Linked DNA regions of Homo sapiens. The protein of the gene in region 1 purifies or fractionates together with the protein of each later gene. This does not show direct contact. Each region holds a gene or a part of one and is shown on either strand. Other genes may lie near its edges. The genes, in order: RORC, GLB1 and USP19.

The links.
Region 2: the proteins of RORC (region 1) and GLB1 purify together in Homo sapiens (affinity purification with mass spectrometry; 2 studies listed by BioGRID and IntAct, with this or other methods). This does not show direct contact.
Region 3: the proteins of RORC (region 1) and USP19 purify together in Homo sapiens (affinity purification with western blotting, with the first as the bait; one study listed by BioGRID). This does not show direct contact.

What each region holds. Positions count from the first base shown.
Region 1 is NC_000001.11:151,818,303-151,821,949, forward strand, and holds part of RORC (nuclear receptor ROR-gamma), read right to left. Parts: intron 1-3,647. UniProt on the Homo sapiens protein: Nuclear receptor that binds DNA as a monomer to ROR response elements (RORE) containing a single core motif half-site 5'-AGGTCA-3' preceded by a short A-T-rich sequence.
Region 2 is NC_000003.12:32,996,108-32,999,754, forward strand, and holds the end of GLB1 (beta-galactosidase isoform a preproprotein), read right to left. Parts: intron 1,238-3,647; coding exon 938-1,237; 3' UTR 510-937; downstream 1-509.
Region 3 is NC_000003.12:49,114,260-49,117,906, forward strand, and holds part of USP19 (ubiquitin carboxyl-terminal hydrolase 19), read right to left. Parts: intron 3,572-3,647; coding exon 3,398-3,571; intron 3,312-3,397; coding exon 3,178-3,311; intron 3,103-3,177; coding exon 2,800-3,102; intron 2,685-2,799; coding exon 2,468-2,684; coding exon of another isoform or gene 2,462-2,467; intron 2,349-2,461; coding exon 2,192-2,348; intron 2,093-2,191; coding exon 2,021-2,092; intron 1,904-2,020; coding exon 1,788-1,903; intron 1,686-1,787; coding exon 1,465-1,685; intron 1,381-1,464; coding exon 1,185-1,380; intron 1,103-1,184; coding exon 969-1,102; intron 859-968; coding exon 700-858; intron 615-699; coding exon 504-614; intron 26-503; coding exon 1-25. UniProt on the Homo sapiens protein: Deubiquitinating enzyme that regulates the degradation of various proteins by removing ubiquitin moieties, thereby preventing their proteasomal degradation. Stabilizes RNF123, which promotes CDKN1B degradation and contributes to cell proliferation.

The DNA.
Region 1 (3,647 bases):
CTACGACATATCTGGTTGCTCCTGCGTCCACACGTGCATATTTGTATGTTAGTGTCTGCTCATGGGGCACTAGGACCCCGGGTTCTCTCTCCCACTGAACTCACTGTAACCTGTACCTGCTTCCCTACCCCTGTGGTTTGCTGCTGGCCCTAAGCTCATCTCTGCTTTGCCCTGTTCCTGTCAATGCCCACGACTCTCTGCTGAGCTTCATGGGACCACAGGAGGCCTTCTCCCAGCTCTTCCTTGAAAGGTAGCTGGGCAAAGCTTGGGATCCCTGGTTACTGTAGGTGTTTTTAGCATTTCCCAGAGCACATGGGTCTCTTTTCCACCATCACTGACCTGCTGCCTCCCCTCTGAGTGGGGAGCCCTGGGGCGGGACAGGCCAGAAAAGTGAAGAGAAGGGCCAAAGCCCCTTTTAATCTATGACGTGTCTCCCACCAAAGGGGCAAAAGAAGTGGCAGCCTCTCTGGAGGGCGAATGCACATTGCTGTGATCTCACCTCCAGTCCCTGGCCTGGACACTGGTCACATGTAGGGCCTGTTGATGTGAAGTGGGCAGGGAGACCATGGCTTGCCCGCCATTCCCCAAAATATTATTTCCATCATTCTTAAACCATCATCCCTCAGGCCAGACTTGAGGTGAGTCAGAGGCAGTAGCTGACCCTGACGGGGACAGGGCACATGGGTATCTGAAATCCCTTCATTAGCACTCAATTCCTCACCCAACCCCCAGCCACACGTGCCTGCCCAGCAGCAAGCTTCCAGTGCTCACACTGTAAGCTGTGGTCCCCCCAGGACCAGGCGGTAAGTGAGTTTTCCAGGTTCTTTCCAGTAAATTAAGAGCAGATTTTAATACATGGAGGGGAAGAGAGAATAAGAGGGCACTGGGTGTCTGGAACAGGGGCAGAAAACGTTGGGGCCCCCATACTTCTAGTCACTTAGATTCTCCCTCTAGACCTACGTTTTCTTGTCAGCAAGATCAGGATAAAAGTATTATTGCCTGTCCATGGGGTGATTGTAGGTAACAGAGAGTAATGAAATGATATCACCAATGGAAAGCACTGTGTATTCAAGTTACTCCTGAGCAGAGGTCAGGCTGAGAAGACCAGTGGGCCTGGCAAGGCTGAGAGGAGCACTCGGGCCCTGTGGACTCTGTTCTTGCCCAACACCTCCCCCTCCAACACTGTGGCATCTCTCTTTTCAGTGGCCTAAGACCAGAGATGGGAGAAACCAACGTGGGCCACCCAAAAAAGTAAGCGGGAGGGAGATTAGGCCAAGCCGCAGTGGGAACTCGGGCTCTGGCCCAGCAGTCAACCACAGGCCTCCCTGCCTCTTCCCTTCTCCAAGAGCCACATCCGCGTGCGTGTGTGTGCTGACCACATGGTGACCCCAGACACATCTCCCTGCCCCATGCTTGACCCACTGCTTCTCCTGGCCCTAGGAACCTCACAACAGTGTCACCAAGACCTTGACCTTCTCATAGGAAGATGCGGCCAGTCAAGGACCCCCTTCGCAAATACCCATGTTTGGGCGACACCAAAGCCTTGGACTCCAGCCACCTGGTCAGCCCATCCTCCATCCTCCCAGTCCAAGACAGAAGTACCCAGTGAGACAGACACACAAGGCCAAAGACTCTGAGCTAGAATGTCAGACCCCCTAGCCTCACTGAGCTGGAGAGACCAAGAGGTTTGGGTCCAGGAAAAACAGAGACATAGATCTAGGGATGGAGAGACGGCTGCGGAAACACTGAAACACAGAAAATCCACGCTTGTATCCTGGCCTTTGCCCAACCCATGGCCCCCTCAGCACTTCAGGCCCTCTAGTCCTGCTCCCCCCTCCTTCCCCTGCCACCTGCACTCCCTTCAATGCCATCCACCCAAACCTCAGAAAGAAAGTACCAGTGCTGTGTACATGAGGGTGTGTGTTACTTGTAGAGAAGGGGTGGGGGAGAACGGGAAGGGGGCTGGTAGACTTGGGGGTTGGTGAGAGGAGCTGAAAACACCTCTGATGATAACTCACCTTCAAAAGCTACCCCTGGGAGACACGTCCCTGAAGCAGCAGGTGGTGGGAACTCAGATTGGGGAGAAGGAGCTGAGTAATCACAGGATTACTCAAACTGTTGCCCTGGAGCCAGGCCTGCCAGGAACTTACCATCTAAGGGCCTGCCAGTGCCAGGAACTAGAGCCAAGCAAAGGTCAGGAACCTCGAACCAGCCCCTGCACCACTGCTCCCATGGCAGCCCTAACTCTACCCTCGCCTGCTGTCTTGGAAAGATCTTTGCATCTCACCTGCAGCTCTCTCACTGTAGCTCTCTCCTGAGAGAGAGCTTTCTCCAAAAGAAAACTCCAATTCCACATCTTCCAAAAGGAGAGACAAATGCCCAAATGCACCCGCCAGCTCCTTAAGTCATCTAATGACTGAATGACTATGGCTTTCTGCATCTCAAACAAGATTACCTGGGGATCTGAGGTGGGACTCAAGATTCTGCACTTTGGTCAGCTCTTAGTTGGTGCCTAAGCTTACTGGTCTTCAGCTTATACTTTGAGTAGCAAGAACTTAGTCCCTATTCCTGCCTTTTTGCCAGGCTGCTCCTTCCAGGGAGTGGGGCTGGGGTTGGCGATCTTTTCCTGAGCTCATTCTTGCATCTTTTCTGCCATCCAGTGTGACCTCTAAGACTTCATTCTGAGACAATACTAGAAAAAGAAACTGAATCTCCTCTGAATTGCTTTAGAGACTGAAGTACCCCCAGGAGCATCCTAGTAGCTCCTCCTATGAGGGGAAATACGGTAGAGGCAAAGTCCTCCATCCTCCTCTAATCGAGCCTCTCACAGCTGTGAGATTCAATGATAGTGCTTTGAGTACTTCCAGAGCCTGGCCCTGTGCCAGCTTAGGAAGCCAACCCTGGGCCCTGTCCAGGTGCCCTATGCCACAGAGAGGAAGTGGTAGGAGCAGGGGAGGGGCTGCAACCCAGGGGGATCTCTCCTCTCAAACCCCAGAACCACCACCCCCCCACCATCATGGTAGAGAATGGGTTCACACAGAGAAACCCCGGGGTCCTCATCTCCTCCTGGTGCCTCGTCAATCTAGAGCTGGGCCTTTTCCTCTCCTCTTTCTCTCTCCTTTTTCTCCAGTGGATACTGATTAAGGAGAAAGGATAATGATAGACATAAGCATTGGCTGAATTCTTACTCTGTGCCAGGCTTTACATGCATTTTCATTCAATGATCACAACCACCCTGTGAAATAGGCCCTGCTAGTATCATCCTCATCTTACAGATGAGAAAACTGAGGCCTAGAGAGAATAAACAGCTTGACTAAGGTCACACAGCCAGAAGTGGCAGATCTGGCATTTGAACCTAGATCTCTGTAATTCTGCAGCCAGTGCCCTCAAGCCTTAAGCTATATACTTTATGAGGATAAGACGCCCAAATGCACACCGGAGACCTGGGTAGAGGACATGGTTATTTGGCTGTAGGGGTAAAAGTGTGAGGTGATTGTGGTGGTCTAGGAACAGAATTCACAGAGGAAACCCACAGAACTAAAGCCAGGACTCCTGTTTGTATAAAGATCCCAAGAGATATTATTCCCTCTGTCCCAACTCTTCCTCTGAGGTCCCAGCCTCCTCCTGCCCTTACCCCTTTCTCTAAG
Region 2 (3,647 bases), on another chromosome or scaffold:
CAGTATATTCCTCAGTGTTCTTGTGAGGGGCAAGTGAGTTAAACATAAACTCAGAACTGTGCATGGTGTAGAACAAGTCCTCAACAAATGAGAGCTACTGCTCCATGTCAGGACAGGAATATCAGAAACACCACATCCTTTCCTATCTGTGCACATACACAGCACACACACACGTGCATGCCTGACTACTGACATGTGTATAGGCCTGTACTGTGTGAATATGTGAAGTTCTTATGTTGAAACACACAAAACGGGATCCAATTTAAGGTAATCTGTTTTTTCATGTATCAAAAAATTTGCATATAAGTATAGATCTCTCACCATTTTAGTGGCTAAAATACTATGCTTCTATATAGATATACCATACTATGTACACTGTGCAACTGTTAATCATTTAGATTGTTTGCATAATTGTTTTGAGCTGTATTTATAGGTTATCTAGTCCAAAAGCAAGTCAAATAACGATCAGAAAAGCAGCAGTCCACAGATCAAACCAAGACTATTTTCCATCCTTTTGAACTTCAAGTTAGTGAAGTGGTTTATTCAGCCCACTCAAGTCTAGTTATGATTTAAGTCAGACCATATAATTCAATACCTGCACATTAAAAACAGTGACATCATCATTTGAGTACAAATTTTATTTAACAAAAAGGTAACATGATTCTTCCAAAATAAAAATCACTACCACCTTTAAAGCTTCCATTCCAGCCCTGCAGATATGTATGCACGTTACTGTGCTGTCAGCCCCTCACACATTCCAGGTGGTCCCTGAAGGTGGGGCTTTGGCACTGCAGGGATGCAGGGAAACCTCAGGTGAAAATGCACATCCTAAATTCCTTTTCCATTTCCACATTCCAATCAGTGAAATGTGGCATGACAGGGAGGATCTGTGAGGTATGTTCAGGGTAGAATCCCTCAAAGACACAGGCTTTCATCATCATACATGGTCCAGCCATGAATCTTTGTTTTTTTGCGGGGGTGGGGGCATGAGTCTTTTTTCAACAGGTTTGGAGGGATGATCGTAGGTCACAGATGAGCCAATAACTGGCCTGTCCACGAACGTCACAGCACATAGTTCTGGATCATCACTGCTGCAGGGTGCCCACTCCAGTTCCAGCACGGTGATGGTGTTTGGGGCCGAGGTCATCAGGATGTGCTGGGGCACAAACAAGGTCAACTGAGGGCCCCGGGCTGGCCAATAGCGGCCAAGGTTAAAGCCATTAATCCAGACCTGGCCCTGGAGAGAGAGAGACAGAGAACCATCAACCCCAGATGCACCGAAAGCCCTGAGGAAGGTGGGGGCCCTGATGTAGGGCAGGCCAGCAGCAATGGAGGAAAGAAATGCCCCCAGAAAGGCGAGGCTGACAGCCAGGCCCATGCCAGCCTTGGTTTTAGCTTCTTGCTGGGATAACTGGCCAAGGTGGGAAGAAGGTGGATGCCCCCATCCACCTTCTTTGGGGCAACAAAAACTTGCCCCAAAGACCCACTCCTGCTTCAGGAAAATACAGGTTTGGTCCCTCTGACGGGCTTCAGTGGCCACAGATGTTGGTACCAGAGAACAGTGTGGAAATTTCTGAATTTCATCCTGGTTCCCAGGTGCTGCCTGTACCCACAGACCAGCCTCTCCCTGACTTTTCTGTACACAGAAGACAACTGCTGAACTGCTTCCTTAAATAGATCTTTTCCTTCTTTGTTCTCCTTTCCCAGAGGCAGGTCTTGACCTCACTATCTGCTGTACACCTGGTGAACACAGGGAACAGAGGACTCCAGGGCCTGCATCCTGAGGTCAGACAGGTACCAGGAGTGGTCCCCAAAACAACCCCTCAAGAGGGATAGGGGGGTTTGGGGTGAGGGAGAGGAAGAGGCTTATCCAGTTGGGTGTCTATATTACTGCTATGTTCTAAGGACTCTTACAGGCACCCTCAGAGTTAGGGTGTGGACTCCATGTTTGGTTCAGGAGCAGAGGTGATGCTATAGGTTGCATAAACAATTTCTGTGAGTAGGGGAAGCTGCTTCCCATAACAAAACTGAAAGTGGAGGATAAACTCCTAAAAAACAGGGACCATGTTTAGGTCTGTCTACACAGCCTCTCTGTATGTGCTAAAATTTGCTCAAAGGGGCTGAGTGCAGTGGCTCATGCCTGTAATCCCAGAACTTTGGGAGGCCAAGGCAGGCAGATCACCTGAGGTCAGGAGTTCGAGACCAGCCTGGCCAACATGGTGAAACCCCGTCTCTACTAAAAATACAAAAATTAGCCAGGTGTGGTGGCACATGCCTGTAATCCCAGTTACTCAGGAGGCTGAGGCAAGAGAATCACTTGAACCCAGGGAGGCAGAGGTTGCAGTGAGCTGAGATTGCGCCACTGCACTCTAGCCTTGCGCAGTGACAGAGCAAGACTCCGTCTCAAAAAAAAAAAAAAAAGATTTGCTCAAAGCTCAAAGGCTAGGATCAACAGCTGGCTGAATAGATGGACCATTCTATTACAAAGAAAGAAAGTGAAGATGGGGAGATCACATACACGCAAAAGAAAGAGAAAATCTGGGAGAAGAAAGGAAAACATAAAGGGAGAAGGAAGAGGAAAGAGGAATGGAAGAAGGGAGGGAGGCAGGAAAGAAACTGTGACCTACAATGGCCCAGATATCCTAGGAGACAGCCTGGAGGAGGCCCAGCCATGGCTGACACCTGCTGAGCCCTAATCCTCATCACGTTCTGCAACACAACTCTGCTGCTCACCCCAGGGCTCCTCAGTCTTCTTACGTTTGGGTATTTTTCAGCCTCCAAGTGTCCCCTTTACTTTAGATCCTTCTGAATTTCCTACCTGAGTTCGTATCTGTGTCCTGCCACTTACTAGCTGTCTGACCTTGGGCAGGTCTCAACTCAATTTTTCATACCAGTCATTGGGGACAATGATGATGAAGGAACAGTGTGTGGCCTGTAAGCGGTAGCACTCCTTACATGATTAAAGTGAAAAGATGTTGGTGTTCCAATGCCTACAAAAGAAGGGGGTCCGTGATTAAAAACCACCTGTCTGTTGGATTAAGTCATTTAGAAAGAGGACGACAGTTTCACAGTTCTCAGAACTATTTCACTCTTGTTTTTACCCTGGGATATGTTATCTCATTCCATCCTAAAAGGTATATACAATGACAGCTTTAGCAGGTTTTTATCAGCTTAAAATCTGCCGGTGCCTTGTTTTTGCAGTATTAGAGAACAGTAGCACTTTACTTTTGCGGTCAAGGGGGAAGACAGAGAAGTGGGAGGGCATTACGAGCAGCAGCCAAGGAATGGCACGCACCACACAGGCTTCATGCTATGGTCAGGACACAGGCCAAGCCAACTCTTGACCAAATCGCAGGTGAACAAAGTGGAGGTTTGGTCCTTTCTCAAACCTCAAGTTCCATTTCATAAGCATCCAAGAGATGGGCCCTCACATGCCGGGTGGACTGTGCACCTGGTAGGTAAGCTGGGAATTGTTTTCCCTGGATCCCCTTCCCTGGATGGTTCTGGGTTAGCGTTGGTCAGAAGAGGCCCTTGCTTGAGATTGGGAGGGTGGAGAGAAGCAGCAGCCATTGCTCTGGGGAGGTTATCGTGCAGTGGTGCAATCCTGGCTCGCTGCAGCCTCCGCCTCCACCTCCCAAGTTCAAGAG
Region 3 (3,647 bases), on another chromosome or scaffold:
GAAACGGGTCAAAAGTGATGGAGACCTGTGGATGTAGAGGTGGCACTGGGTAGCTGCACACAGAGTGGGAGATAAGATGCTCATGCTCAGAGAGCCCATTCCGGGGCTTCTGATGGCTCTCAGGGCCCCCACAGCCAACCAGCAAACTCTCAGGCTTCAGGACACTAGACAGGGCAGGAGGACCACCAGGAAATAACAATCCTTCTTTCTGGCACTCAAAGCCCTACTCAGCTTAGCCACTTTACGAATTGGCCTCACACTTGCACCCCATGTGCCCACAACCCTGCTACAACACCTTTGAGCTCTAACATCACTTTTCCCTCAGTCAGGAAGCCTACCCTGAGTGGGCTCTTCAGCCCAAATAGAATCCTAAGGCCTCCCTGCCAGCTTCTTTGCCCAAACCTTGCCCTGTAGCACCTTAAGATGCACATGCCTCTGAACCTAATGTGACCAGAATAGCTGAGCTGAACTAGGGGGTCTCTTTCCAGGGGAGCCCATCACACCTTGGCACACACAGGGCACACCAGCTTCGACTTGTACTGCCCCTGAAATAGGTCCACGATGAAAGAGTCATTCCTCATCTTGTGCCGCTGCCATGCTTCCTCAGCTACCACCTGAGAGGCAGAGTGGTGAGAACCAAAGAGTACCAGGGGCTGGGATGCTCATGAGACATGCCCACCCTCTGTCCCTAACCCTGACCTCATCGGGCCGCCCATCTGAATCCACGGTCTCTGTGTAGGGCTTGTTCTGAATGCGATTCAGGTCCTCGTGCAGCCCATCCAGCAGGAAAGCCATGAACTCCTGGGCATCATGCTGTGCATAGCCTGTGAACTGGCTGGCCTTACTCGCCACAATGGCCTGGATACAGGAGCCAAGGTGTGAACATGAAGCCCTAGCACCCACTGCACACCCAGCTGGCTGGCCCTCCCCGCCCCCTCCAGCCAAGGGTGACAGTGGTCACAGATCACCTTCAACTTGGAAGGCTGGAAGGCATGGTGGGTGCCCTTCCACAGCGCCCGAAGCAGCACGGCAAAGCCAATGGCCAGACGCCCACCAGTCCCTAGTGGGTTGTTGTAGTTGATCTCAGCCTCAAAGGAGCGGTCTAGGAATAGTAGCCGAGCAAAGGTGTGAGGAACAAAGGCACTCTCTCTGCCCATAACCCAGGCTCCAGGCCCTGCCCTCACCATGGAAGAAGTCCCGGAGTTCCCGAGTGTTGGACAGAGACTGAATGACGCTGTTCATGAAGCAGGTGTTGCCTAAATTGACAAGGCCAGTGAAGCCTGGCAGACACACCTTCTTCTCTTCCTCTTCCTCCTCCTCCACGCTGTCTCCACTAACTGGGCTGTGGGGCATGGGAGGCACCATGCATGTAGGCTTGGGCTGCAGGAGCAAAGACGACATGAGAGAACAGCCCCAAGACTCTCCAGCCTCCATTCTTCGTCCTTCCCACCCCAGAATTCTCACCGAGGCCAGGTGTGTCTCTGGCTTTGGGGTTACATGCTCCATGGGTGTGCGGGTTGCCACACTGTCTAGCCCTGTGTCCTCAGATCGTGCCTTGGATTTATCCTTCTCCACAGCCCGGGCCTCCTCCTGGCCTGTCAGGGGGTGGGGAGCACCTCCTGGTGGGGTTGAATCCAGAGGGGTTGGACCTGTCGGCACGGCAACCTTTGCACCACCCACTGCACCTTAAAAAGGGGGAATGAGAGGGCTGGTGGTTAGCAGCATGTGACAGGGGTTTGGGTCCTGGTCACGTGGAACTGGGCAATGAAGGGAGCTCGTGTGCAGACCTCGTGCAGCCGGGGCCTCCAGGCCCCCCCAGCGCTGACTCTGCCTCTTACGAAGGCAGATGTCGATGCGAGAAGCCGTGAAACAGAAGGTGCACTGCTCTGGCTCAATCAGATTCCTGTGGGAAAAGGCTGAACTCAGGGACTTAGGAGGAATGAGCATCAGGATAGATGAGCCAGGGAGATGGAGCCCACGGGGTAGGACAGGCACAGTGGTGGGGCCGGGCACCACCCACCTGAGCTTCACCTGCCAACGGAAGGTGGTGTGGGGCCCACAGCCCGGGTGCAGCCTCAGGAAGTTTCCATCCCTGCAGAGGCACAGCAGGATAGGAGGAAGGACAAGAGGAAGAGCATGAGACATACTGTCCCACCTGAGGCATTGTTTGCCCCATCATCTACCCACCCACCTGGTCTGGAAGATGAGCGTGAAGTCCTGCTCACGGAAAAGTACTCTTGAGGTGTCCCTGCAGATCTCCTTCACGTACACGTGCACCACCACTGAATCCGGGCCCTTCTCATACGAGTCATTCTTGACAAACGCCAGGTTCACCATCGACTCGGGCTCTATATTGAGACCATGGCTCAGCCCCAACCAGGACAGGTTCCAGCCTATTGCTACTCTCTATCCACCTACAAACTTTGCAACCCAACCTAGGGCTCTGCCTGCCCACCCCCACCTTTACCATCCACCAAGGTTGCAGCATCTGCTGCCACTGCCATCTCCTCCTTGGCACAGTCATCTTTCCCAGGGTTTCTGCTCCGGACCATGGCTGGAGAGACTGGGTCATTCCCGGGAGGCACTGCTTTCTCTCCTGCCAAAGGGGCTAAATTCTCCTCTGAGCCCAGGAGGCAGGTTTGGGAGTTCAGCGGTGGTATGCAAAGCTGTTCATCAGCCTCAACCTATTAATGGCAAGATTGTGGAAAGAATCAGCCCTGGGTCTGCCAGGTGGCTCCCACTCCAGTGCACACCCTTTCCCCCCATCTCCTAACACCCAAACAGGTGCCCAGCTCTCACCTGGGTGGCTGGGTCAGCCACGAAGGGTGGGGCATCACCCCGGGGTCCAGGGTCATCCCTGGACCCGTCCCCCTCTGGCCCTCTGCAGAGATGCACAGCCCTCTTGGCGCTGGGCCCTGCCTGGGCCCCGGGGCCAGCCCCTGCGCCTACCTCACCACGGCCCTGGGCCCGCTTCTGGTTCCGGGCCTCCTGCTTAGCCCGGTGGGGCTCAGGGCCTGGCTCCAGGGCAATGGGAGACAGTTCCTGCCCATTCTCCTGGCACCGCAGCCCCGGCACCAGCTCCTGGGTCCCTAGAGGTTTCTTCTGCCAAAGATACAGCAGTCAGGCCCTGTCGACTACACTGGTATCCCTACCCAACCCTGTACTACTAGAACTCACCAGGAGGGAGGGCCACGTGAGCATAGGCACCTTTTTGGGCAGTGTCAGGTGCAGGAGACTGCCCTTGCGGGTTTGCACTTTAGCACAAGAGCTTTTTATCTCAGCATAGAAGACACCACCCCACTGCTGACCACCTGGGGACAGAGCAGGGTCCATGAGGTAGGATAGGAGATATCAGAAGATTCAAACATACTACTGTGCTCAGGGCAGATGGACACACCTGCAAACCGCACCACACAGTCTGTATCTGTGAAAGCAGCATCTACATCCTCCAGCTGCAGGGGACCTACTCCCACACGAAGCTTGACAATCACCTCTTCTGCACTCTGCCTCCAATCGAGCAACAACTCTGGAGTGGGAGTAGCCAAGAGATCATGAGGGTCTTCACAAGCTCCTGATGGTGATAAGCAGGTAACAGAGACCCAGCCTAATGAAACTGCTTCAGATGGGAGCCAAATTGCAAGTGCCCC